Homo sapiens: one gene and its partners. The protein of the gene in region 4 purifies or fractionates together with the protein of the main gene of each other region. This does not show direct contact. Each region holds a gene or a part of one and is shown on either strand. Other genes may lie near its edges. The genes, in order: RNASEL, RSPRY1, PXMP2, SLC5A6, MZT2B, SLC25A17 and TTC33.

Evidence for each region.
Region 1: the proteins of SLC5A6 (region 4) and RNASEL purify together in Homo sapiens (affinity purification with mass spectrometry; one large-scale study listed by BioGRID and IntAct). This does not show direct contact.
Region 2: the proteins of SLC5A6 (region 4) and RSPRY1 purify together in Homo sapiens (affinity purification with mass spectrometry; one large-scale study listed by BioGRID and IntAct). This does not show direct contact.
Region 3: the proteins of SLC5A6 (region 4) and PXMP2 purify together in Homo sapiens (affinity purification with mass spectrometry; one large-scale study listed by BioGRID and IntAct). This does not show direct contact.
Region 5: the proteins of SLC5A6 (region 4) and MZT2B purify together in Homo sapiens (affinity purification with mass spectrometry; one large-scale study listed by BioGRID and IntAct). This does not show direct contact.
Region 6: the proteins of SLC5A6 (region 4) and SLC25A17 purify together in Homo sapiens (affinity purification with mass spectrometry; one large-scale study listed by BioGRID and IntAct). This does not show direct contact.
Region 7: the proteins of SLC5A6 (region 4) and TTC33 purify together in Homo sapiens (affinity purification with mass spectrometry; one large-scale study listed by BioGRID and IntAct). This does not show direct contact.

The regions. Positions count from the first base shown.
Region 1 is NC_000001.11:182,579,257-182,582,756, reverse strand, and holds part of RNASEL (2-5A-dependent ribonuclease), read left to right. Parts: intron 1-498; coding exon 499-704; intron 705-1,399; coding exon 1,400-1,532; intron 1,533-2,749; coding exon of another isoform or gene 2,750-2,803; intron 2,804-3,500.
Region 2 is NC_000016.10:57,206,829-57,210,328, reverse strand, and holds part of RSPRY1 (RING finger and SPRY domain-containing protein 1 isoform 1 precursor), read right to left. Parts: intron 2,737-3,500; coding exon of another isoform or gene 2,644-2,736; intron 2,272-2,643; coding exon 2,219-2,271; intron 1,255-2,218; coding exon 1,142-1,254; intron 1-1,141.
Region 3 is NC_000012.12:132,701,087-132,704,586, reverse strand, and holds part of PXMP2 (peroxisomal membrane protein 2), read right to left. Parts: intron 3,338-3,500; coding exon 3,218-3,337; intron 1-3,217. UniProt on the Homo sapiens protein: Seems to be involved in pore-forming activity and may contribute to the unspecific permeability of the peroxisomal membrane.
Region 4 is NC_000002.12:27,205,769-27,209,268, forward strand, and holds part of SLC5A6 (sodium-dependent multivitamin transporter), read right to left. Parts: intron 2,023-3,500; 5' UTR 1,883-2,022; coding exon 1,490-1,882; intron 1,175-1,489; coding exon 1,109-1,174; intron 767-1,108; coding exon 715-766; intron 326-714; coding exon 258-325; intron 1-257. UniProt on the Homo sapiens protein: Sodium-dependent multivitamin transporter that mediates the electrogenic transport of pantothenate, biotin, lipoate and iodide.
Region 5 is NC_000002.12:130,185,262-130,188,244, reverse strand, and holds part of MZT2B (mitotic-spindle organizing protein 2B), read right to left. Parts: intron 1-2,983. UniProt on the Homo sapiens protein: Required for the recruitment and the assembly of the gamma-tubulin ring complex (gTuRC) at the centrosome.
Region 6 is NC_000022.11:40,788,347-40,791,846, reverse strand, and holds part of SLC25A17 (peroxisomal membrane protein PMP34), read left to right. Parts: intron 1-3,500.
Region 7 is NC_000005.10:40,724,962-40,728,461, reverse strand, and holds part of TTC33 (tetratricopeptide repeat protein 33), read left to right. Parts: coding exon 1-117; intron 118-3,500.

The DNA of each region.
Region 1 (3,500 bases), on a different chromosome or scaffold from region 4:
GTGCAAAGAGTTCCTTAGGCGACCTTCTTCTTGGCCTTTCCTCCTGGCCACGGCCTAATCCCTGGGGTCATCACTTTGCCTCTCCTGGCCTGGACTGACTTTTTTATTTGCTGCGTGACATAGCCTCAGACCCAAAGTCCCAGTTTCCAGCCAGGCTGTCAGTTCTCCCTGTGTTTAAAGCATTCTCCCTTTCCTCAATTTATCTATATTCTGTCCATACATTTGAGGCCCAGCTCAAATCTCTCTTCCTCCAAGCAGTCTGCCCTAACAACTGTGACTTATATGTATCTTTTACTCTTCATAAAACTAAGTGGTATGGGCGATATACTGCCTTGAAGAGGTCTGTATGCACACATCTGTGCCTTCCCTCCCTAACAAGCCTACAAATTCCTTGAGATTCCTCCCATCATCTTGTTTGCTAATAGCGTGCACCACTCCTTCCAGGGTTACCCAAATAATTAGTAAGCATCTTTGGCTTGATTTATGGCTTTTGTGCAGGACCTTGGACGGCTGGTCCTCTATGTGGTAAAGAAGGGAAGCATCTCATTTGAGGATCTGAAAGCTCAAAGTAATGAAGAGGTGGTTCAACTTTCTCCAGATGAGGAAACTAAGGACCTCATTCATCGTCTCTTCCATCCTGGGGAACATGTGAGGGACTGTCTGAGTGACCTGCTGGGTCATCCCTTCTTTTGGACTTGGGAGAGGTAAGTAAAACTTTGTGCAGATGCCACAGGCCTCCAGGATGGAAAGGGTAAGGTGGTGCAGACAGAAGTCTGGGCTGCAAATCAGGAGACCCAGGCTTTTTTCTTAGCTTGGGATTTACTGGCTGTGTGTCCTTGGAGAGATGACTTAACCTCTCTGGAGTCTGCTTTTCATTTCTGAAGAATAAGGAGGGGAAAAAAAGAGATGCTTGCCTCTCCTATCATGCAGAATTTTTGAAGACATGGTTGTATTACTTTTATTAAAAACCAAAATCTAGCCAGGCGCGGTGGCTCACGCCTGTAATCCCAGCACTTTGGGAGGCCGAGGCGGGTGGATCATGAGGTCAGGAGTTCCAGACCAGCCTGGTCAGCATGGTGAAACCCCGTCTCTACTAAAAATACAAAAGTTAGCCGAGTGTGGTGGCAGGTGCCTGTAATGTCACCTACTTGGGAAGCTGAGGCAGGAGAATTGCTTGAACCCGGGAGGTGGAGGTTGCAGTGAGCCAAGATTGCGCTACTGCACTCCAGCTTGGGGGACAGAGCGAGACTCCATCTCAAAAAAAAAAAAAAAAAAAAAAAAAAGAAAGAAAAACCAAGAAAGCACAAAAAACACCAAAATCTAACGGTTTTCTTTTTCTGGAAAAGGAAAGGGAGGGATGGGATGATCATGATCATTTAGATCATTTAGTCATCTTCAGCCGCTATAGGACGCTTCGGAATGTGGGAAATGAATCCGACATCAAAACACGAAAATCTGAAAGTGAGATCCTCAGACTACTGCAACCTGGGCCTTCTGAACATTCCAAAAGTTTTGACAAGTGGACGACTAAGGTATGAACAATTCCTATAGTGCAGGGGTTAGTCCAGGAATAAGAATTTGTGTAATGTTTTATGTTAGTTTTTCTATCTTATTTTACACCAGTGGCAAACCAGAGGCTCAAAGAGGTGATTTTGCCTCCTGCCCTCCCATCCCTATCCCCCTAGGCTCCCTGCCGGGGTGTCTACTTCTACTTTCAGAAGCTGGCCCTCCCTCTCTCCCATTCAGACCCATGCCCCTCTGATAGACTGTTATTCAGGCTCCCCCTGGATGGCCTTATCCCAGCCCATGAGCCTTTCCCTCACTTAGCTGATAATCCTATTGCCATTATGGCACGAGCAGCTGACTAAATAGAGCTTAATCCAAGGGAAGTGCTTCACCATGAGGTGTTTCAGTCCAGGTACAGCCTGGCTGCCTCCACTGCCTGTAAACAGCCCAGCTCTCAGGATCCACACACAGACCTACATTCTGCCTGAGGAAATAGACTATGAAGGAAAGATGATCTTTCAAATTGCTCTCTTTAAGAAAAGTTCCACCTAACTTGCATTAATTATAGTGGAACTCTACAAAATTAGTCATCATCTCAATCTAGTCAGTACTGTCAGAACTTTCATTATTAATTAACAAACATCTATACAATACCAATTATGTGCTAGGCCCATGCAAGGCCTTGAGCATACAAAGCAGAATACAATGTGTCCCTGTGGGGCTGAGAAGCCCATGGAAATGATGCTGTGGGATGTGTGCTGGGCATCCCAGGGACATGTGCAAAGCACTATGGGAGAACCCATAATCTTCAGGTCTTGGAAACCAACAGCTTCCTATCCTAGACCTGACCTGGGACTCTGCTTCTCCTAATTCTTGTTTTGCTTTCCTTCCCTCACTGGTCTCTAGACTGCACATCACACTCATAATTACTGGCTTACGGTCCATTTTCCTTGCTAGACTGTAAGTTCCATGAAGGCAGAGACTACCCATTGTCTTGTCAGTTATTGTATCCCTGGCATGGAGTAGATGTGCCATGACTCTTTACTAAATGAATGTCTATCAAACTTTGGCTAAAATTTTAACTTGTAGAAACAAAGAAATTTGAAAGCAGCTATGATAGTGATAGCTAATGATTACGTAGTATCATTATGATTATGTGGCAGCCATAGTTCTTGAGACTTTACATGAGTTACCACATTTAATCTTTAGCACAACTTCTGAGACAATCATCTATATTTTGCAGATGAGCAAGCTGAGGCACAGACAAATAATTTTTCCAACTACACAGAACCAGTAAGGGGTGCACCAGGATTTGAAGCTGGGAAGGATGGCTGCAGAGGCCATGTGCTTAAGCCACACCACTACATGAAGCTGTGATGGCATCAAGTCTACCAACTCATTTACTCACTGAGGAAATTGAGGCTCAGAGACCACACTCAAATTACTCATGCTGGACAGTCAGAGATTGGCAGACCTGGAAAGAGGAACTTGTTCTTTTATTTCCCAATTTATTGGTTCTTTTCCCTAAATTCCATGGGCTTATATTGAATTTTGATAGTCTTCAGGTTTTAACTTCAAGTTTTACCTTTTAATTCCCATTTTACACTTTGTTTTTCTGTTGACTTGCCCATTTTCATGGTCACACAATTAATTTTGTCAGCATAGGTCTGGAGCCCAAGTTTTCCAGCTTGTATGACTGTATTGGTTCTTGACTTGCCCCATCCTGCCACACATACGTGCTTGGCGTTTCTCACGGGTGTTCTGCACAGAGTGCACCTGGCCAGTCTCAGCAGCATCCTCACTAGCATTGCTCTTTCATCAGTTACTCTTCCTAAGTGACCCACTGGATTCTTGACTGTTGCATCTTGATCTCGTAGCCCAAACTCTTTCTAAATATGAGAGCCATCTATGGCTCTGTATCTATGAGGGTGACAAGCACAGACAAAGAGGATGACATTACTGTGATATGAAAGGAGTTGCCCTGGGACACCTGC
Region 2 (3,500 bases), on a different chromosome or scaffold from region 4:
GTGGGAGGATCCCTTGAGCCCAGGAGTTCAAAATCAGCCTGGGCAACATAGTGAGACCCTTTATCTACAAAAAATAAAAAAAATTTAGCTAGGTGTGGTGGTGCATGCCTGTAGTCCAGCAACATGGGAAGCTGAGGCAAGAGGATCACTTGAACCTGAGAGGTTGAGGATACAGTGAGCCATGACTGTGCCACTGCACTCTAGCCTAGGCGGGGCCGGGGAAGGAAGGGAGGCAAGAAGGAAAGGGAAGGAAAGAAGGAAGGAAGGGAGGAAGGGAGGAAGGGAGGGAGGGAGGGAGGGAAAGAAAGAAAGAAGAAAAAAAAGCAATTAAATAAAGCCTTGATAGAGAATGTGGCGGGGCACAGTGGCTAACGCCTACAATGCCAGCACTTCGGGAGGCTGAGGTGGGCTGACTGCTTGAGCCCAGGAGTTTCAAGACCAGCCTGGGCAACATGATGAAACCCCATCTCTAAAAAAAAATACAAAATTAGCCAGACATGGGGTCATGCACCTATGGTCCCAGCTACATGGGAGGCTGAGGTGGGAGGATCACCTGAGCCTAGGGAGGTTGCAGCTGCAGTGAGCTGTGATTGCTCTACTGCACGCCAGCCTGGGTGACAAAGTGAGACCCTGTTTCAAAATAAATAAATAAAAAGACAGAGGGCTGGGTGCAGTGGCTCATGCCTGTAGTCCCAGCACTTTGGGAGGAGGCCGAGGCAGGTGGATCACCTGAGGTCAGGAGTTCAAGACCAGCCTGGCCAACATGGTGAAATCCCGTTTCTACTAAAAATCCAAAAATCAGCCAGGTGTGGTGGCGGGTGCCTGTAATCCCAGCTACTTGGGAGGCTGAGGCAGGAGAATCGCTTGGACCCGGGAGGCGGAGGTTGCAGTGAGCCAAGATCACATCATTGCACTCCAGCCTGGGCAACAGAGTGAGACTCTTGTCTCAAAGAGGAAAAGAAAAAAAAAGAGGACATAATTCTTCATAATACAAAATAAATTTACATAACAAAATCAATACTGAATAAAACAGACCCCAAATGTATAAAGATGAAACACAATACATCAAATGTTCTTTGTGGTCATTTATCTTGTGCTTAAGCACAAATGATAGTTTCATAAAAGATAAGTATTAACTTACTTTAGTGGGCAATGGACATTCATCTAGTAACAATGTTATAACAGCTGGTCCCAGTGGATCTTCCAGTGGAATAACTCTAATTAAAGACTGGACAACATCCAACCATCCTTCATCTAAGAGCAAATCAAGAAGATTATATGATGGAGTCACTATTTTTAAAATGTGAAAATATGTCACACGAGATCAATTCACATTAAAAGAAAGACTTTTGGTCTATAGATTTTTAGCAGCTAATATTTGGCATGGACATAATCATCAATTGCTAGTCATCGTGGTGGAGTAAAAACATCTTAAGTTACAGGAGTCTGGTGATTTGTGGGTACCTTTATTTGGAAAAAGGTTAAGCTATGGTCTTGTGCTCTCACATTAAAATAGTTTTAAGCATCTTATTTACTACATAGGAGTTAACTGAGAAAATGAAGTATACTCAGCAGTTGGCTTTGTTTTCAGAATGATACTTAGGAAACTAAGGAACAAAAAATATCTTTGGCCAGGGGCTGTGGCTCACACCTGTAATCCCAGCACTTTGGGAGGCTGAGGCAGGAGGATCCCTTGAGCCCAGGAGTACAAGACCAGGCTGGGCCAACATGGTGAAATTCTGTCTCTACAAACAACAGAAAAATTGCTGGGTATTGTGGCATGCGCCTGTGGTGCTAGCTACTTGAGAAGCTGAGGTGGGGTGATCACCTGGGCCAGGGTAGGTTGAGGCTGTAGTTGAGCTGTGATCGTGCCACTGCACTCCAGCCTGGGCAACAGAGTGAGACTCTGTCTCAAAAAAAAAAAAAAATATATATATATATATATATATATAAATAATCTCCTCTCCATTCCAGAACAGTATGGTGAAAGATCCATCAATGCCAAAAAAAAAAAAAAAAAAAAAAAGGTATAATATGCATTGCCTATTATACCTATTCAGGGAAATTTCCATACAGTAAGGGCTTTTTTCATTGTTATGTATGCTGTATTTTTGGAGTCTTTTATCTCAAAACAAAACAAAACAAAAAACAAAAGGTGGCTACTTTTCTTCATTATTATATATTCATTATAAAGTAATGAAAACAAAACTAAAAATACCTGTTTCTGCCATTTCGTGTAATGTTATCATTGAATAGGGAGGTTCCTGATCACTGGAAAAAAAAATTCAAGGCATTAAACCTGAGGAAATAATAAATGACAATTCCAAATAAGAATTCAAACTGGAGGTGTGGAGGTAAAAAGGGACAGAAGAAATGAACACAAATGTAAGGAAAGAGATAGAAGAGACAACCTGAGCTATGACCTGTAAGGATGAATGTATACCATATGTGCTCATTTCCAGTCACTGTCCACAATGACCCACAGACAAAATGGGCAGGTGGATACAGACAAAGACTACTATGTGTCCTGGGGTAAAAGCACAGGAGTAAAACTGGAGATCACAGCCTACTCTCAGCTTTACACTCAGAGGCCCAGTGCCAACTGAGACAAGCCAGGAAGGTCAACATCACCTTCATACTTACCTCAGAGAAATGCCAGGAAGAGAGACGACAATCCCGGTTGAGGACTTATGGAAGCAAGGGCCTATATACGCATCTTCATTTTGAAGTTTTCTTCTGGAAATACCACTACATGCTTAGACTTCATAAAATGGTATTACAAGAAACAAAACCAAACTTAAGGAACTACTTAACATTCTAGACATTGCTCCAAAGTGGCATTATACACCTTAATTCAGTGGTGTGATCCCAGAAATCTTTAAAAAGTCCTTCAGGGGAACTTCAATAATGAGATGTTTTCCATTAAACAATTCTAACTGCTTAAGAACTCACCACTTATTTGTTTACATATTGTGGGTCTCTGTTTTAGTGTGGAAAAAAAAAAAGCCCCAAAAACTATCATCTTAAGTCATTTAATCCAGAGAATAACCTTGTGATATGGGAATTAGTATGGTCATTTCAGGTACTCATTAGGTGCTGCCTGTTTAAACAATATAATTGACTGATGCAAGTATTTCTGAAGAATGATCTGGCAATAATAAAATTAAGTATGCATATACCCAACAGTTGTAGATAAATTTTTACACAGGTCCAAAAATCAATGCATATTTGCGCTGTTCACTGCAGTGCTGTTTGTAAGAACAAAAATTTGGCAGTAACCTAAGTGACCATCACCAGATGAAAATGTAACAAAATATAATACTTTCAGGCATACAAGGGAATACTCTGTAATAGTCAGAAGCAGTTGTAGATTTATATACAGTAACACAGATTTCGATGTTGAGAAAAGTTAAAAACAAAGAGGTTTGTATAACTATGTCACTCTCTTTTAAAATATTGCAAGGGGCCAAGCGTGGGGGCTCACATCTGCAATCCCAGCA
Region 3 (3,500 bases), on a different chromosome or scaffold from region 4:
CAGCGGGAGGCCGTGGCCAGTTATCCAGCCTCAGTCACCCAGTTCATTTGTTTACCCGTTTGTTGGTCAGCTGGTCCAACCACCCATCCATTACTGCATTTACTGAGCCTTTGTTCGTACCAAACGCTGTGCTAGGCCCCTAGCAGAGAGGAGTGGAGAAGAAAAACGGTCCCCTAGTTACAGTGTTCACAGGCTACAGCGGCCCAGGAATCCCAAAGCCAAGTCACTCTCCTTTTGCCCCCTTCACCGCACACCTTAGCTCCTGGTTCAGCCTCTCTCACTCCAGGACCAGCCATCATGCAGGTGGCTGCACCCTCCTCAGGGGACACAGCTGACGAACAGCGGAGGGGCCCCAGACCTTCCCTCCTCTAACCCATCACCATCCCACTGCCCTGCTTTGGTGACTCAGCAGCTTCACCCTTCCCCAGAATCCTCTGGCCCAGTGCTGAGTCTCTCCCTGGCACGTGGTGCTATGAAAGTAGCAGCCCATGTGTCTGGTTAATCGCCGCGTCTCCGAGTCTAGCAGCATGGCGCACAGTCACTGCTCAGGAAACGCTTGCTGAATGAATGCTGCTTCCGCATACACCTGCACCCACCTAGGATGGCGACTCTGCCCCCACGCTACTCAGAGGCGCGGCTTCCCAGCTCTCCCCTCTTCCATCCCAGATCCTCCGTGTTCCCGGCCAGTCTGTCTTCTCAGTTGTCTCTGCTTCCTTCTCTAAATTCCCGAGAACCAGTGGCCCATGGCTGTAGCTTCCTTAGCCTACTGTTCTTCAGTCACACTCCCTGGAAAATCCTTTATCCTTCCTGCCTTCTCACTTCCCCAGATGCTGACCACAGCTGGACAAGCCCCAGCCCCCTCTGCCCAGAGGTCTTTGTCTCTGCAGTCAGCATGCTCTCCCATCCTCCACATGGCCAAACTTGCCCCTCCTGTATCCCCTTAAAATGCCCGCCTGACTTCCTCTGCCCTCAGTCCCAGCCCCTGGCCCTCCAGAGAGGCACGTGGGGGCTTGAGGCAGGATGTCCCACTCTCCTGTCCGCTCAGCTGTCACTTTCTCTCTCCTCTCTCATCACAGAGGGCAGGGCCTCTGTCCAAGCACCACTGTGAGTGTGCTGGGGGCTCACATCCACCCTGACTCCTTAGGGGACCCCGCAGAGCTGCTCTTTCTGGACATGCGTGTTTGCCCATCCCACAAGCAGCTTCACGTCTGCACCCACCATGGCCGCATCTCTGAGTGTCAGAACCCCCTCTGCCACCCAGCCTTCTTCCATCACTTCTCACCTTCTCTCAAACTTTTTAAAATTCATTTTTATAAAATAGAGATGGGGTCTCACTATGTTGCCCAGACTGGTCTCAAACTCCTGGCTTTGAGTGATCCTTCTGCCTCAGCCTCTCAAAGTTCTGGGATTACAGGCATGAGCCACCATGCCTGGCCCCCACAGACTTTGAGAGCATGTTCTAGACTTGTGATTTTTAAAATAATTCCCACCCACTCTTCAAGGCAATCTGGCTTCAGCCCCATAGAGCTGAAATTGCTCTGGGAAGGGCCACTGTTAAAGCCAAAGGAAATTTTTTTATTTTGCTTTAACTCCTGGCAACTTTGGCTAAGGGTGAACTGCCTCTTTGTCCTGTCTGTGTGCACCCCTGGTTTCCTGCTGCTTCTTGGTGTGTTTGTGGTGTGTGCAGTGTGCACACACTGGGCCGCCTCCCTCCTCTCCCTCGGGGGTCACCCTGGTCCTTTCCTCCCTCCTGGGCAGGGCTCAGAGCCGGTGCTAATGCAGGAAGGCCCTCTGCAGCTGAGGTCCAGCCACTGCAGGCCTGTTCAGGTCCTCCCTAGCAGCAGCCTGGGCTGGGACGGCACCCACCTTTCCCAGAAGGGCCACCTGCCCTGTGCCTGGACTGTTTGCACCAACAATGCAGGCTCCACACAGCTGCTGTCTTTCTAGGGGTCTGGAGCTTTGGGGCAGCAGGCAGAGATGCCCGCCCAGAGTACCAGTAAAAAACCCTGATGGGCGGCATACCTTCTGGGGGAGGGAAGCACGTGGCCCCTGCAGGCTCTGCCAGGCCTCCTCCTGTAGCATCTGGGGGTATCCTGCCATGCTGCAGGGGGTGCTGCACCCCATCCTCCCAGTGTGGGAGTGGTCCTGGGGACCCTGGCTGTGCATAAAGACAGTTGATCCCAGTGGCAGAGCCTGGAGCTCCAGCCTCCACACCACCAGCCCAGCCCCAATCTGACACCTTTGACTCAGCCCCCACAGCAGCTCCTTCATGCACAGGATAGCGGAAAGGCTCAGCTTACCCAGAAGGCCTTCACTCTGCACCTGGATGGGCCCACCCCTTGCCCAGGTGTGGCTGCCATGGCTGCAGGTGAGGCAGCTCTTCCAGGCCAGCGGCAGGACCCATGGCCGCACAGTGCCTGCCTTCAGGCTCAGCTGTAATTCATGAGCCCAGGGACCACGAATGCTTTGTTTCTTTTTAACATTTTATTTATTTTTTGAGACAGGGTCTTACTCTGTTGCCCAGGCTAGAGTGCAGTGGCACAATCTCAGCTCACTCCAACCTCCGTCTCCCGGATTCAAGTGATTCTTGTGCCTCAGCCACCTGAGTAGCTGGGACTACAGGCACCTGCCACCATGCCTGGCTAATTTTTGTATTTTTAGTAGAGATGGGGTTTCGCTATGTTGGCCAGGCTGGTCTCGAACTCCTGGCTTCAAGTGATTTGCCCACCTCAGCCTTCCATAGTGATGGGATTACAGGTGTGAGCTACTGTGACGGCCTTCTTTTTCTAAGTATAACTAGAGTTTATTTGGGCCAAGTTTGAGGACTGCAACCCAGGAGCATAGATTCAAGTTGCCTGCATGTACATTCCTGGGACTGGGAATGTTTCAAAGGCTAGAAAACTCATAGGCATCCCTGGCATGGGGGCTTTTAATGAGAATTTGCTGAACGAACAGAAGAGGCAAAGACGACCACTCGGGACACCCTTCTCTGTTGCTTCCTGAATCCCGAACTAGCAATGATTCAGGGTCATGGGCAAAATCCAAGGGTAGTTGAGGAGTCTAGACACGGATGAAACTAAGTCTAGCGGAAAACTACCAAAGAAAGAAGAGAAGAGAAAAGAAGAGGGGAGGGAGGGGGGGAGGAAAGAGGAAGGAAGGAAGGAAGGAAAAGGCTGACAAAGTAATGTTAGCAGAGGCTGAGCCCCGTGGCCCTCACCTTCAGAGGGACGTAGTTGATGTTGATGAACTGTAGTGGCGTCCACACCCGCCAGTTCATCCTCAGCGCCGGCCAGAAGCCCCCCCTCATCTTGGCGGCGAAGGCTGAGGCGTCTTTCCCCTGCAAAGGAGGGAAGGCGGGTGGTGAACAGTCTCACTGCCCATCAGAACTGAATTCCGGGCACCCAGACCCTATCGTGATGGTTTTTAAACTGCTATTGGATTTTGTTCTGTGTGTACGCAGACAGCACACATGTGTACTCAGCACTGCGGCTCTAAGGAGC
Region 4 (3,500 bases):
AGAACATACTACCAGTGAGGGGACTCTCCTGCCATTAGGCATGTAATTGCTGTGACCCTGTTGACATCATTCCCATCCCATCCTCTACCTTCATATACCATCCCCACTGCTAAATCCTATCATAAATCTTACCACCCCAGAATTTCACCTATTCTCCTCATCTATATTCTCAGCTTATCTCTTCTTTTCCTTCTCTTCCCATGTCCCCTCCTTACTTCATCCCTTCCCCTCCCCACACCACGGCTTACTGCACTTACCAGAGCTGTATAGACGGTACAGACAATGCCCAGGGCCAGCACGGACAGCCACAGATCAAAGCCAGTCACTGTAAGCATAGAAGCCACATTCTTATCCCTGGAAAAGGGTTCCCCAGGGGAGAAGCCCTGGTAGGGCAATCACGTCATGCCACAGAGATAAAGCATTGGTCATTAACAATGAAATAAATCATTCACCACAACGGAGAAAAATGTTTGCAGAGCTCCACCAAAAGATATTGACTAACCAGTTCAGATAGGGCATGGTAACATGTTACTAGCTGTCAATTGAGGTGGACCAAGCCTTCCTCTGGTAGAGACCCACCCAAGGGCCCAAGCGGTGAATTAATTCCCCATTCAAGGTCAGGTTCTTTTCCACATACGCTCCTCCATCTGCCTCTCCCAAAGGTGCTTTCCTAACCTACCACGGCTGAAAGCCAGGGGCTGTGTGACTCCTCACCTGCATTGAGAGCCAATGACGGAGCATAGAGCACAACTCCCATGTAGATCACCTGTTGCATGTGGAAAAAATGTGATGGGGGCCGGAGAATGGTGGGAAGAGAGAGGAAGAAAGATGGGCCTCAGCGCCAATATGCCCATGGCTTCCCCTCACCTAGGCTCACTTCCCTCTTCCTTCTCCTCTCAAATTCTGGCTTGCTGCCACCACAGTATCTGTGCTGGAATTGGAAGGCATGGGCAGCAGGATGCCTCTGGGGTCCTCACAGATGCTAACCTCTAGCAGGAATTTCAATCCTGCCAATCTGAGAGCAGGGGAGACTCCAATTCCCTCAGCATGCTTGCGTTCAGGTCCCCCAACATGCCCTAGGCTCGGTTTCTATCCTCATTCTGCTTACCATCTGAAAGATGAAGGTCACAGTTCCACACACTCGCACAGTTTTATTGAATCGAAGCTCCAGGTACTGGGTATACAGAAAAAAAGATTTTTCTCCTGACTTCACCCCGACAACTCACAGACAAATTCCCTCAAGATGCTCAGGAACATGAGGGAATATCCAACCCATACCCACTCTGAGTCCTACTCGGCATAGCACCCTCCTCTCCAATCCTGCCCCTATACCTAACATCACTGAGAAAGAATTATAAACACACAATGAGTTTTCTGTCCCTCTCATTAGGTGGAGGAGGTCTAGGGTCCCAGGTCCTTCCTATGTGCCTGTCCCTCCTCTCCACCCCAACCCGTGTCCCACGCACTTCTCCCTTCTGTCCCTGCTCACCTCATAGGCACTGGTGAGATGCAGGCGGTAGAAAACGGGGATGAAGATGTGTGCAGGTATCAGCAGCCCCAGAAAGTAGCAGCAGCCCAGGAACCAATATTGGGTCCCAAATCGGTAGATCTCTGACGGCACACCCAGGATGGCCACGGCTGACTGGAAGGTGGCCAGCAGGGACAGTGCCACCGGAAGGCAGCCCATTTTGCGGTCCGCCATCAGCAGCTCACCAACAGTATGCCGGCCCCAGCCACGACAAGCATGGTAGAGCCCAATGGCAAGAGAGAGAACCAGCAGCAGGACGAACACCACATAGTCCATGATGGAGAAGGTAGACATGCCCACGCTTGTGCCCGAGGTTGGGGAAAGAGGGGCTGAGGTGCTCACCCCTACACTCATATCCTCACTGTGTCTGTGATCTGCAGCCAGTTGCTGCTCCAGGGCTCTGGGGTAGGGCAGGGGCGGATGTGTGGCTACAATCTGGCTTCCAGCCACAGTCTCACAGTCTTCCTCCACGGAGTGATACTGTCCAGGGTGAGCTGCAAAGGAATTAGCTCTTAGTGAGGCCTATCTGGCCTTGGTAGCCATTCACCCTTGGGCCTTGTACATCGCATGCCATCAGAAGTGGACCAGCCAGCATAGTGGTAGCCCTTCAAGGTCTAGAGGCCCTGGTATGGGTTTGGTAGGGGACATAAGTGAGGGAGAAGCATCAGAGTGCGACAGCCAGGAGACAATATAACTTGGCCAGGACCTTTGAGTATGCACAGCTGTGAAATTCAACAACCTTCTTAGGTCTCCACCCGAGTACCAAAAGAAAAATAAACTCTAGCCTAAGTTTCTTAGCAGAATTTCCCAGCCCCACTTGAAGGCACAGACCCAGTCACTACAATACACTAAGCCAGCAGAGCCCAGCCTGGCGCCACAGCCCAGCAGGAAACACAGCATGGAGACTAATGGCAGCAGGGCTTCCCCTACTGCCCCTGGCCTCGGCCCTCGCCTCCTGTGATCCCCAGTGTCACCCTTCTAACTGATCATCAGTGAGACTGCCTCTGTGGCAGCCACAGACTCCATTTCAGGCGTCCCCAGGCCAACCCCTTTCTTAAGGTTCTCCCCAACACCACTAGATAAGTGCTGCCACCCACCTCTCAGCCCCTCTACCTGCAACATCACAGTCAACAGCAGACGCAGGAAGAGCGGCTGGATTCAAAAGTGAGAGGGGAAAGGTGAGAGGGCACCATGCTGGAGTCAGGGTTTCAGAATGACGATTCTCCATTCTGGAGAGAAGCAACCCAGTCACGGAGCTGAGAGGCAAAGGGACCAGCCAAAGAGAGTGGTCGTATCCTGCTGGGGACAGACACCTACCTGGAGAAGCAATCCCTGTTCTGAGGCAGAGTTGCCTGGAGCTGCAGAGCTGAGGATCTGGCTCTATGAGTAGCTGAGGTGAGAGATCAGGAATTGGGGGTGGGGTGAAGCTCAGCAGTCATTTGTTCTGGCCCCTTCAGGGAACCAATGGCTGTGTTCCAAATGGCCCTATCACCCTATGGCCCCCAAACTCCAACTCAGCCCTAGAGGCTCCAGAACAGGGAAGAGGGAGCTCATATTCAACAGCATTCCTAGATGGATTAGCCTTTCAGCCTAAAGTACTCTTGGCACTCTGTGCGGGAGGGAGTTGGAAAGAAGGAACTGAAAACATGGGAAAGTTGAAAGTTGATTTTCTAACTCCTGCACAAGAAATGTTAATCCCCCAAGAATACACCACAATCCTCAGAGAAAGAGGGAAGGGATCATAATATTTAAAATCTTAAATCTTTGGACACCACTATTACAACCAACCCCCCACCACTGACGATTTCACAGATAAACACGCTAAGGCTCAGATGGTTCAAGTGACCTTTCCAAAAGCACAGAGCCGACTATTGTCAGAGCATAAATTAGAACCCAGGTCTAGGGATTCACCATCCACCCTGTCTGTTCTCCAAGCGTATCATATTGTCTTCAAAGGCAATCCTCTGGGGTA
Region 5 (2,983 bases), about 100 Mb from region 4:
AGCTCCCCACAGCACGCAGCATGGCAGGCCGCAGACTTGGGCCTGACTCAGAGTCGGCTTCCCTTCAGCTTGCTGCCATCTGAGCTTCCTCTCCTCCCCTCAGCAATGACCCAGTCCCTTCTGGAAACAAGGATGAGAGGGAAGCAGAAAAGAGCAAATAATGCTTTTTTTTTTTTTTGAGTGGTGGGGGAGGGGGGTTTAGAGACTGAGTCTTGCTCTGTCACTTGGTCTAGAGCACAGTGATGCAATCACAGTTCATTGCTGCCCCAAACTCACGGCCTGGAGGGATCTTCCTGCCTCAGCCTCCGATGTAGCTGGGACTACAAGCATGGGGCCACACCTGGCTAATAATGCTTATCTTTAAATCTGACAGGGTTGACAAACCCTGGAAATGTGAAACCAACATAACTTTAAGCCATAACTGATACTAAGAAAATCCTGGAAATCTTCAGGAATTGTGCGCTCTCAGGGTTAGTGGGGAGCCCTGTTCAGGCCTCCTCACTTTATGAAGGATGAGAAGGCCCAGAATAGAATGGCCTGCAGTGCCTTGCAGTGGGGAAACCAGCTTTGCTTAGCCCTGCTCCCTCGGGAGGGGCTACTGAGTCAGACGGGCTAGACAGTGGGATTGAACCAAGTGTGGCTGCAGGTTGGGGTGTGAGGGCGGGGTGACTGATGCCCCTACGCCTGGTCCCTGGAGGGCCCTCCTAAACGCCAAAGATAGTCAATGACCATTGAATGTTGAAAACAGCCTGGCTCAGCAGGGGTCAGTGGCTCATGCCTGTAATTCCACTACTTTGGGAGGCCAAGGCGGGAGGATCCTTTGAGGCCAGAAGCTAGAGACCAGCTGGGACAACACAGTGAGACCTCCATCTCTACAAAAAATTAAAAAATTAGCCACGTGTGGTAGTGTGCACCTGTAGTCCCAGCTACTCAAGAGGAGGTGGGAGGATTGTCTGAGCCCACGAGGTTGAAGCTGCAGTGAGCTATGAGTGTGCCACTGCACTCCAGCCTGGGTGACAGAACAAGACTGTCTCAAAAATAAATAAATAAATAAAAAGTAAAAGAAAATGCAGAATTAGCTCAAATACTTTAATCTAAAATATCCAACGTATTATTTCAATACGTAATCAGTACATAAGTTATTCATAAGATGTTGCATTCACCTCTGTTCTTTTTCTTGTTTCTTTGTAGAAATGGGTGGGGTCTTGCTATTTTGCCCAGGCTGGTCTCAAACTCCGAGCTTCAAGTGATGATCCTGCCTCAGCCTCCCAAAGTGCTGGGATTACAGGTGTGAACCAATGCCCAGCCTCATTCACTTTGGGGTTTTTTGTTTATTTTTGAGACAGGGTCTCACTCTCTCACCCAGGCTGGAGTGCAGTGGTGCAGTCACAGCTCACTGCAACCTCAACCTCCCAGGCTCAAGCAATCCTCCAACCTCAGCCTCCCAAGTAGCTGGAACTACAGATGTGTGCCACCATGCCCTGCTAATTTTTGTGTTTTGTAGAGATTGGGTCTCCCTGTGTTGCCCTGGCTAGTCCTGAACTGCTGAGCTCAAGAGATCCAGTAGCTGTGGACTCCCAAGGTGTGGTGGGTTTTTTGCATTCCCTTTTGTACCGGTCATTTGGCATCTGCTGTGCATACCACACGCAGTGCAATGACCATGCCAGCCATGTGTGGCTCAAGGTTCCTGTATCAGGCAGCACAGCTCAGGTGAGATGGCTTCCACACTCCAAACGTCATCTTACATGCATGCTCTGGACAACTTTTAAAACGTATAGTTTCTCTAAACTTAAATAGAACGCTTGACTGAATTTATTTTTCCCTCAATGACTCCAGACTCTCACCAAGACAAGCATTGCCCCTCTGTGCTTCTGGGGTTTTCTATTTCCCCTTCCCTGTGGGTATGAGTGAATCTGGTGGTGGTTGTCCCCACAGGCTGTCTGGATGGCTGGGGGACAGGCATCCAGAGGACCCAGGGTGCCTGCTGCAGCTCAGAGGCAAGCTTGAGAGGGCCTGGCCCACAGCCTGGAGAACTCCACACCCGAGTCCTGTGGGAAACCTATGGCCTCCATGCCCCCCAGCCGGATCACTCCAACAACCCCCCTTATGTCCTCCACCCCAGATTCTGCCATTACCAGGGCAGCCGGAGCTCTGTGTGGTCAGATGCTGTAACATGTGGGCCTCAGAGAGCTCTCAGCATTCCATCTGTGGCCTCTGCTTCTCACTCAGCAGCACACTCCTGGTGTGGCCCCACATCTGCCCCATTCCCCTCCACCTCCTCCTCAGGTTCCACTCTATCTCCACAGGGCCTCGGTGCCCTCATGTCCTGGCTTTCTGCCACCCAGCCTACAGGACCTGGGCTATGCTTCCAGGACAGAGCCCTCAAGGAACAAATGACCCTGAGGGTCCCAGCACTCCAGGCCACTCCTGTCCTTGGGTAAATTCTCTCGGAGCCCCCATTCGCTCACACAGCACCCCCTAATCCTCCTGGCCCCTCTATGCCTGCATTTCCAGTGCCACAACCCTCACATACATCTTGACCGTGCCCCCCCACCTGCCTCCTCCCGCCCCCGGCCTACCAGCACCTGGACAGCGCTCTGCCTCACCCACGCCCTCCCACTGCCCCAGCTCACACGTGTGGGGCTCTGCCGACCCCCCTCCTGCTGTAACCCTTGTTACCCCCCTGTGTAACCCTTGCTGCTCTCTGGGCTCTGAAGCCTCCTCCCATCTCCATTGCTAGCGGTTTTTCTTTTTTTTTTTTTTTTGAGACAGGGTCTTGCTCTGTTGCCCAGGCTGGAGTCCAGTCACAAGCTCTTGGCTCACGGCAACATCCCCCTCAGGCTCAGGCGATCCTCCCACCTCAGCCTCCCAAGTAGCTGGGACTACAGATGGGCGCCACCACCATGCCCACCTGGCTAGTTTTTTTTTTTTTTTGAGACGGAGTCTCGCTCTGTCCCCCAGGCTGGAGTGCAGTGGTGTGATC
Region 6 (3,500 bases), on a different chromosome or scaffold from region 4:
CAGTTTTCTCGGGAACCTCCATACTGTTTTCCATAACACTGTAACATTTATAATCCCACCAACAGTACACAGAAGTTCCCATATTTCCACATCCTCACTAACACTTACTTTCTGTTTTATGATAGTAGCCATCCTAATGGGTATGAGGTGATATCTCACTGTGGCTTTGATTTGCATTTCTCTGATGATTAGTGATGCTGAACATCACTTTTCATATGTTTGTTGGCCATTTGTATATTATCTTTGCAGAAATGTCTGTTCTGGTTCTTTGTCTATTTTTTAATCAGGTTATTACATTTTTTTGCTCTGAAGTTGTAGGATGTCTGTATGTGGTATAATAAAAAATGTATGTGGCCTTTGTCCCTGGTTCCTGGCACAGTTCCTAAAACCATTGGAATTTCCTGAGTAGTAGTATCTTTTGTTATTCCTAATGAGCCCCTTTGAACTATCTCTGAGTTTAGGCTAATAAAGTTACTATTGGTGGGCTCCTAGATAGCTTCAGGATGGAGGCTGGTGGCCAGAGGAACCAGCCATGTGCTTAGAGAGAAGGGGAGAGAAGTTGAATTTTGGATAAATAACTCAGGATAGAAGTCTAGGAGTCATCACAGGCTCTTCGTGCCTTCCCACCCTCCACATCTGCTTGGCCATCAAGAACCACTGGTCTGTCTCCTCACTGTCTCTTGGATCCATTTCCTCTTCTCCATATCCATAGCCATTTCCCCAAATCAAACCTTATCATTGCTCACCTGGACTATTGCACTATAGTCTGATCTTCCCTTTGAGGTCTTCCTCATGAACCCACTTTGCACAGTTTTGCAGCCTTTCTAGGAGAGTAGTTTTCAAAGAGTATCACGACTCAAAGAACTCAAGTTTGAGATTTGTTCACTTGGGGAAAAAAATTAGAATAGTTCCTGTACAGAAAAAGACTTGTTTTTTACATAAATTACAACAAATGGCAATCTAGTGGGATCTTCTATACTTGAGACCAGTTATTTGTAATACTTTGATTTTAATCATTTTAGATTAGTTTATATGTATTTGCATTTGAAAGATTATAACTTACAGGGACTAACTCATATAACTTTCCATGAAACTTCTAATTCATGGACTATATGTTGAAATCTTTTGCTTTTTAAATTGTCCAAAGCGGTTTATTTGCTGTGTCTGCCATCCCATTACCCACCAGATATATACCACCCCTGTGTTACTCTCTCTGTCCTGTTCATCTTTCTAACTCTTAGTGCAATTTAGGATTACAGCAGACTCCCCCATACCTAACACAGCTGGACTGGTATAGTAGGGCAGTTAGCTTTCATTTTTTACTTTTTTCCACTTGTCTAAAATTTTTTTTTCAGGGCTCATGAACAATTTTTTTCTTTTTTTTTTCAGGGCTCAATTTTAAAAAGTCAGTTAAAGTAACACATATAATAAATAGCCTACTAACCTTAATTGTTGTATTTTAACTTTAAAGTTCACTCTTCCACTTTTTTTTTTTTTTTTTTTTTTGAGATTGTGTCTCACTCTGTTGCCCAGGCTGGAGTGCAGTGGCATAATCTTGGATTGCTGCAACCTCCACCTCCTGGGTTCAAGCAATTTTCCTACCTCAGCCACCTGAGTAGCTGGGATTACAGGCACCCACCACCATGCCCAGCTAATTTTTTATATTTTTAGTAAAGATAGGGTTTCACCATGTTGGCCAGGCTGGTCTCAAACTCCTGACCTCAGGTGATCTGCCTGCCTCGGCCTCCCAAAGTGCTGGGATTACAGGCGTGAGCCACCGCGCCCAGCCTAAAGTGTTTTCTTGAGTGTGTGAGAAGGGGGTAGGATTACAGTTGACACATAGGAGAGTCTACGGGTCTGTGTTGACTGTGAGCATCATCTGTTGTCTTGTCAGAAAATGGTCCAAGGCCAGGTGTGGTGGCTCACCCCTGTAATCCCAGCAGTTTGGGAGGTCAAGGCAGGAGGATCACTTGAGCCCGCAGTTTGAGACCAGCCTGGGCAACATAGCAAGACCCCATCTCTATAAAAAATAAATTTTAGACCAGGCGCGGTGGCTCACGCCTGTAATCCCAGCACTTTGAGAGGCTGAGGCGGGTGTATCACCTGAGGTCAGGAGTTCGAGAACAGCCTAGCCTACATGGTGAAACCCCACCTTTACTGAAAATACAAAAAATTAGCCAGGTGTGGTAGCAGGTGCCTGTAATTCCACCTACTTGGGAGACTGAGGCAGGAGAATTGTTTGAACCTGGCAGGCAGAGGTTGCAGTGAGCCAAGATCATGCCACTGCACTCCAGCCTGGGCAACAAGAGGGAAACTCTACCTCTAAATAAACAAACAAACATAAAATATTTTAAAAGGTAGGGAAAGAAGGAAAGAAAGAAAATGAAAATGGTTGGGAGACCCAGCTCCTGAGTCGCTGGCATCAGGGATCCTCCGTGGCGTGTCATCGGCATCGTCGGGCCCCTGGTGCACCCCCGCGGCAGACAGAGCTCACGCCCCTTCCCACCCCGTGGCTGGTCCGGGGTCCGGGCACCGCGTGGACGGTGTCTCTGTAGGACGCAGGGACCGGGCTGCAGCCCATGCCTCGAGCAGACTGCATTACGAAGCATCTGTCATACTCCTGCCGGGACCAAGTGGTATGGGGCTTCGGCCGTGGCTACAAGCAGCTGGGCATCCCCCACAGCTAATTTTCCTGAGCAAGTGGTAGATAATCTGCCAGCCGATATATCCAGTGGCATTTATTATGGTTGGGCCAGTGCTGGAAGTAGAGATGGTCAGAAGATGGTGGTGAGCATAGGATGGAACCCATACTATGAGAATACGAAGAAGTCCATGGAAACACATACCATGCATACCTTCAAAGAGCACTTCTATGGGGAAATCCTGAGTGTGGCCGTTGTTGGCTACCTCAGACCAGAAAAGAACTTTGATTCATGAGAGTCACTTATTTCAGCAATTCAAGGTGATTTTTGAGGAAGCTAAGAAATGACTAGATTTACCAGAACATTTGAAACTCAAAGAAGATAATTTCTTCCAGGTTTCTAAAAGCAAAATAATGAATGGCCACTGATGAAAAATCATATTATTTATTCATTCACTGTCTTCCAGTATTTCAGTGTTTTGTTTTGTTTTTATTTTATTTTATTTTAAGTTTTTGAGATGGAGTCTCGCTCTCTCTCCCAGGCTGGAGTGCAGTGGCGTGATCTTGGCTCACTGTGACCTCTGCCTCCCAGGTTCAAGTGATTCTGCTGCCTCAGCCTCCTGAGTAGCTGGAATTACAGGCGCACACCACCACGCCTGGCTAATTTTTGTATTTTTAGTAGATATGGAGTTTCACCATGTTGGTCAGGCTGGTCTCGAACTCCTGACCTCGTGATCTGTCTGCGTTGGCCTCCCAAAGTGCTGGGATTATAGGCATGAGCCGCAACGCCCGGCCCAGTGTTTATTATTGTCCAGCCTCATCTTGGTTATATTTCAAAAATCAAACATTTTCCTACAGC
Region 7 (3,500 bases), on a different chromosome or scaffold from region 4:
CATGAAATGTTCCCAGCAGTACATGCAGCAGAAATGGCCGTCCAGCAAAATCCACATTCATGGGAGTCTTGGCAGACTTTGGGACGTGCTCAACTTGGTTTAGGAGAGATAATCCTGGTGAGGAAGTCAGATTATTATAATGCAGAAATTTTAAGTATATTTTGACTTTTTTTTTTTTTTGAGATGGAGTCTTGATGTCACCCAGGGTACAGTGCAGTGGTGCAATCTCAGCTCACGGCAACCTCCGCCTCCTGGGTTCAAGCGATTCTCCTGTCTCAGCCTCCTGTGTAGCTGGGACTATAGGCATGCGCCACCATGCCTGGCTAATGTTTTTGTATTTTTAGTAGAGACGGGGTGTCACCATGTTAGTCAGGCTGGTCTTTAACTTTTGACCTCAAATGATTCTCCAGCCTCGGCCTCCCAAAGTGCTGGGATTACAGGCGTGAGCCAACATGCCCAGTCTATTTTGACATATTTTTGATTAACTGAACCCAAAAGTGAATAGCCGTTTATCAAGTCTATACAAAAAACAATTAGCAAATTACTTCTTAAAGGTATTAATCCATAAACACAGTTCACAGGTATTACTGAACATCTTTTTTATTATAGACACTAATTATATCATGATCAGAATATTTTTCAGTTACTTGACATCATGGATATTAAAAAAAATTTAACATAAAACATTGGCATTTGGTAAACCTTATTTAAATAGACAATAGGCAACTTTTTGGCTTAGTTCTTTGGATCATTACATTTACCACATTATAAAGTGGTATTAGTATCACTGTGGAGACAAAACCGCTGATAGATTATACAGGGGAAGGAAGACAGTAGAATATGGGAGGGTAATGGTGATGAACATTTAGACTGAAAAGTTGTTAGGCTTATTGAGGGGATAAAGAGGAAGAGTAGAAATGTGTGCAAATGAAATACTCATTGTGTAATGTTTACCGTAAACTGGTACCTAATGCATCTCTCAATTTGTCTGGACTATACCTTGTTAGTAGCAGAGGCTATCTAGGTAAGAATTAGCTGTGACAGCTGTCCTGTTGTTTTTCTTTTGGCAGGGCTATATACACCTGATAGCTAACGAAATTTAACTTCCTAACAAGTGTTTGCAAATCTAATATACAGTGCCAAATTTCCTCCTTGTTATTAAGTAAATTAAGATTTTAAAAATGGTTTTATTTTTTACAGTTCAAAATAAAACATTTTAAAAGTTTCTTGCAAGACTAAAATTACTGATAAATTCAAAATATAAACTTACTAACAGTGGTTTTAGTAAATTGTGGATGACTGAGCTTTTTTTCTGGCATTCTTATAAATGTATCATTATTTCTACTTACCAAAAAAGGTGTTTGTCAAATTCTCAGAAATAGTAAGGAATTTGTATGAGAAAATAATTGATTTGATTAAAGTAAGTTAATGATAATCTAAATGAGATTCACAGTGATAGAAACCATTTTAACCAAGTACTGTTTTTTTCTTGCCATTTAGCACTGTCAACTTCTCTCTTTTTACATGAAGACTTAAATCATACCAGAGTTGGAAAAAAGAGTTCAAAGAATTTAGTTTTCTAACATTAACAGGGGAAGAAAACCCTATCATATAATACTTTTTCCTTGCCTCCCTTATTAAAAATTTATACATCACTATCTCTTTTGCCAATAGTGTCTATGGTAATGGAACAAATCTCTAGGACATAATATTTAGTAAAGATTGTCCTTTATAAAGAAAGAAAATACACTGCAGGTGAGACGGAGATACTTTGAATCATCCAATAAAAATAATTTAATATTTAAATTTTTTTGAATAAGAGTACCAGTTCGACTTTTTTTTTTTCTGTTGATATGGCTCTATTCATTAATACTGTGAAATTCTTAGAAGAATTGAAAGTATTTTTTTTTTGCCATTTAAATGTAATTTTTAGGAATCTTCTCTGTTTTTATGTAGATTTAAGCTGTTCTCTTAAAAGACTAGAATGGTAAAAAAAAAAGATGACTCAAAATGTCATAACGAAGGGACACTATGTAAAATATATTGAAAGCAAGCTAGAATTTCTAATATCTAACAATTCTTACTATATATACATATGGACTAAAACCATAGGAAATTATGTATGTAAATAGCACAGGCAGTAAATTAAAAGTCAGTAGTTGGGTATATCTCCATGAATAATTATTTAAACTTTGTAAGAGTTGGATGTGAACATTGGAAAATGTTTATAGGAGATATATATATATAAAATATGTATGTATATGGTATACATTTTATATATATATACGTGTGTGTGTGTGTATATATATATATATATAAAAGACTTTATGAGAATGAGATTTTAAGAAGTGGAAGGATGAGAGAATAAGAAAGCTGAAGCCAGGCGCGGTGGCTCAAGTCTGTAATCCCAGCACTTTGGGAGGCCGAGGCGGGCGGATCACAAGGTCAGGAGATTGAGACCATCCTGGCTAACACGGTGAAACCCCGTCTCTACTAAAAATACAAAAAATTAGCTGGACGTGGTGGCGGGCGCCTGTAGTCCCAGCTGCTCGGGAGGCTGAGGCAGGAGAATGGCGTGAACCTGGGAGGCGGAGCTTGCAGTGAGCTGAGATCGCGCCACTGCACTCCAGCCTGGGTGACAGAGCAAGACCTGTCTCAAAAAAAAAAAAAAAAAAAAGCTGAAGAGAATGGTTCTGGGAGTTAAAAATTCTGTATGAGGGAATGGGGATGGTGAGAAAGGAATACATAAGGGATTTATCCTGAAGAAGAAGGTAGAGAGGGAAGGAGACTGGGAAAGGTAATGAATACCAGGAGGTAACAGTATCAGGAAGGATTCTTCTGTTGGCTTTCCAGGGTTCTCAGCCTTCAGTGCTGGAACTAGCTTTGTGGCTTCCCTTCTTCGGGCTCTGTGTAATTCATTGCCAGCTTTTGCTTTTCTTCATGCCAATGTGCAATAAATACTAATTTTGTTTACTAATGTTTTCTCTGTTTTCCAAGTCTCATTTTAGCCATTGGTTTTAATATTTTGCATGAGCAAATCTTTAATTAGAAATTTCAGTTGCATCATTTGATTCTTTTTATTGTTTCGCTTTTGTAATGGTAGTAATGGGATGGACAAGTGATAATTTCCAGACAAAAGGAAGATGATTGAGAGTTTTTAAAATTTCACTTGAGGGGCTGGGCATCCTGGCTCACGCGTATAATCTCAGCACTTTGGGAGGCTGAGGCAGAAGGATTGCTTGAGGCCAGGAGTTTGGACCAACCTGGGTAGCATGGCAAGATCCTATATTTACAAAAAAAAAAAAAAAAAATTTGGCTGGGCATGGTGGCTCATGCCTGTAATCCCAGCATGTTGGGAGGCTGAGGTGGGTTGATCACCTGAGGTCAGGAGTTTTGAGACCAGCCTGGCCAACATGGTGAAACGTCGTCTCTACTAAAAATACAAAAATTAGCCAGGCATGGTGGTGTGTGCCTGTAGTTCCAGCTACTCAGGAGGCAGG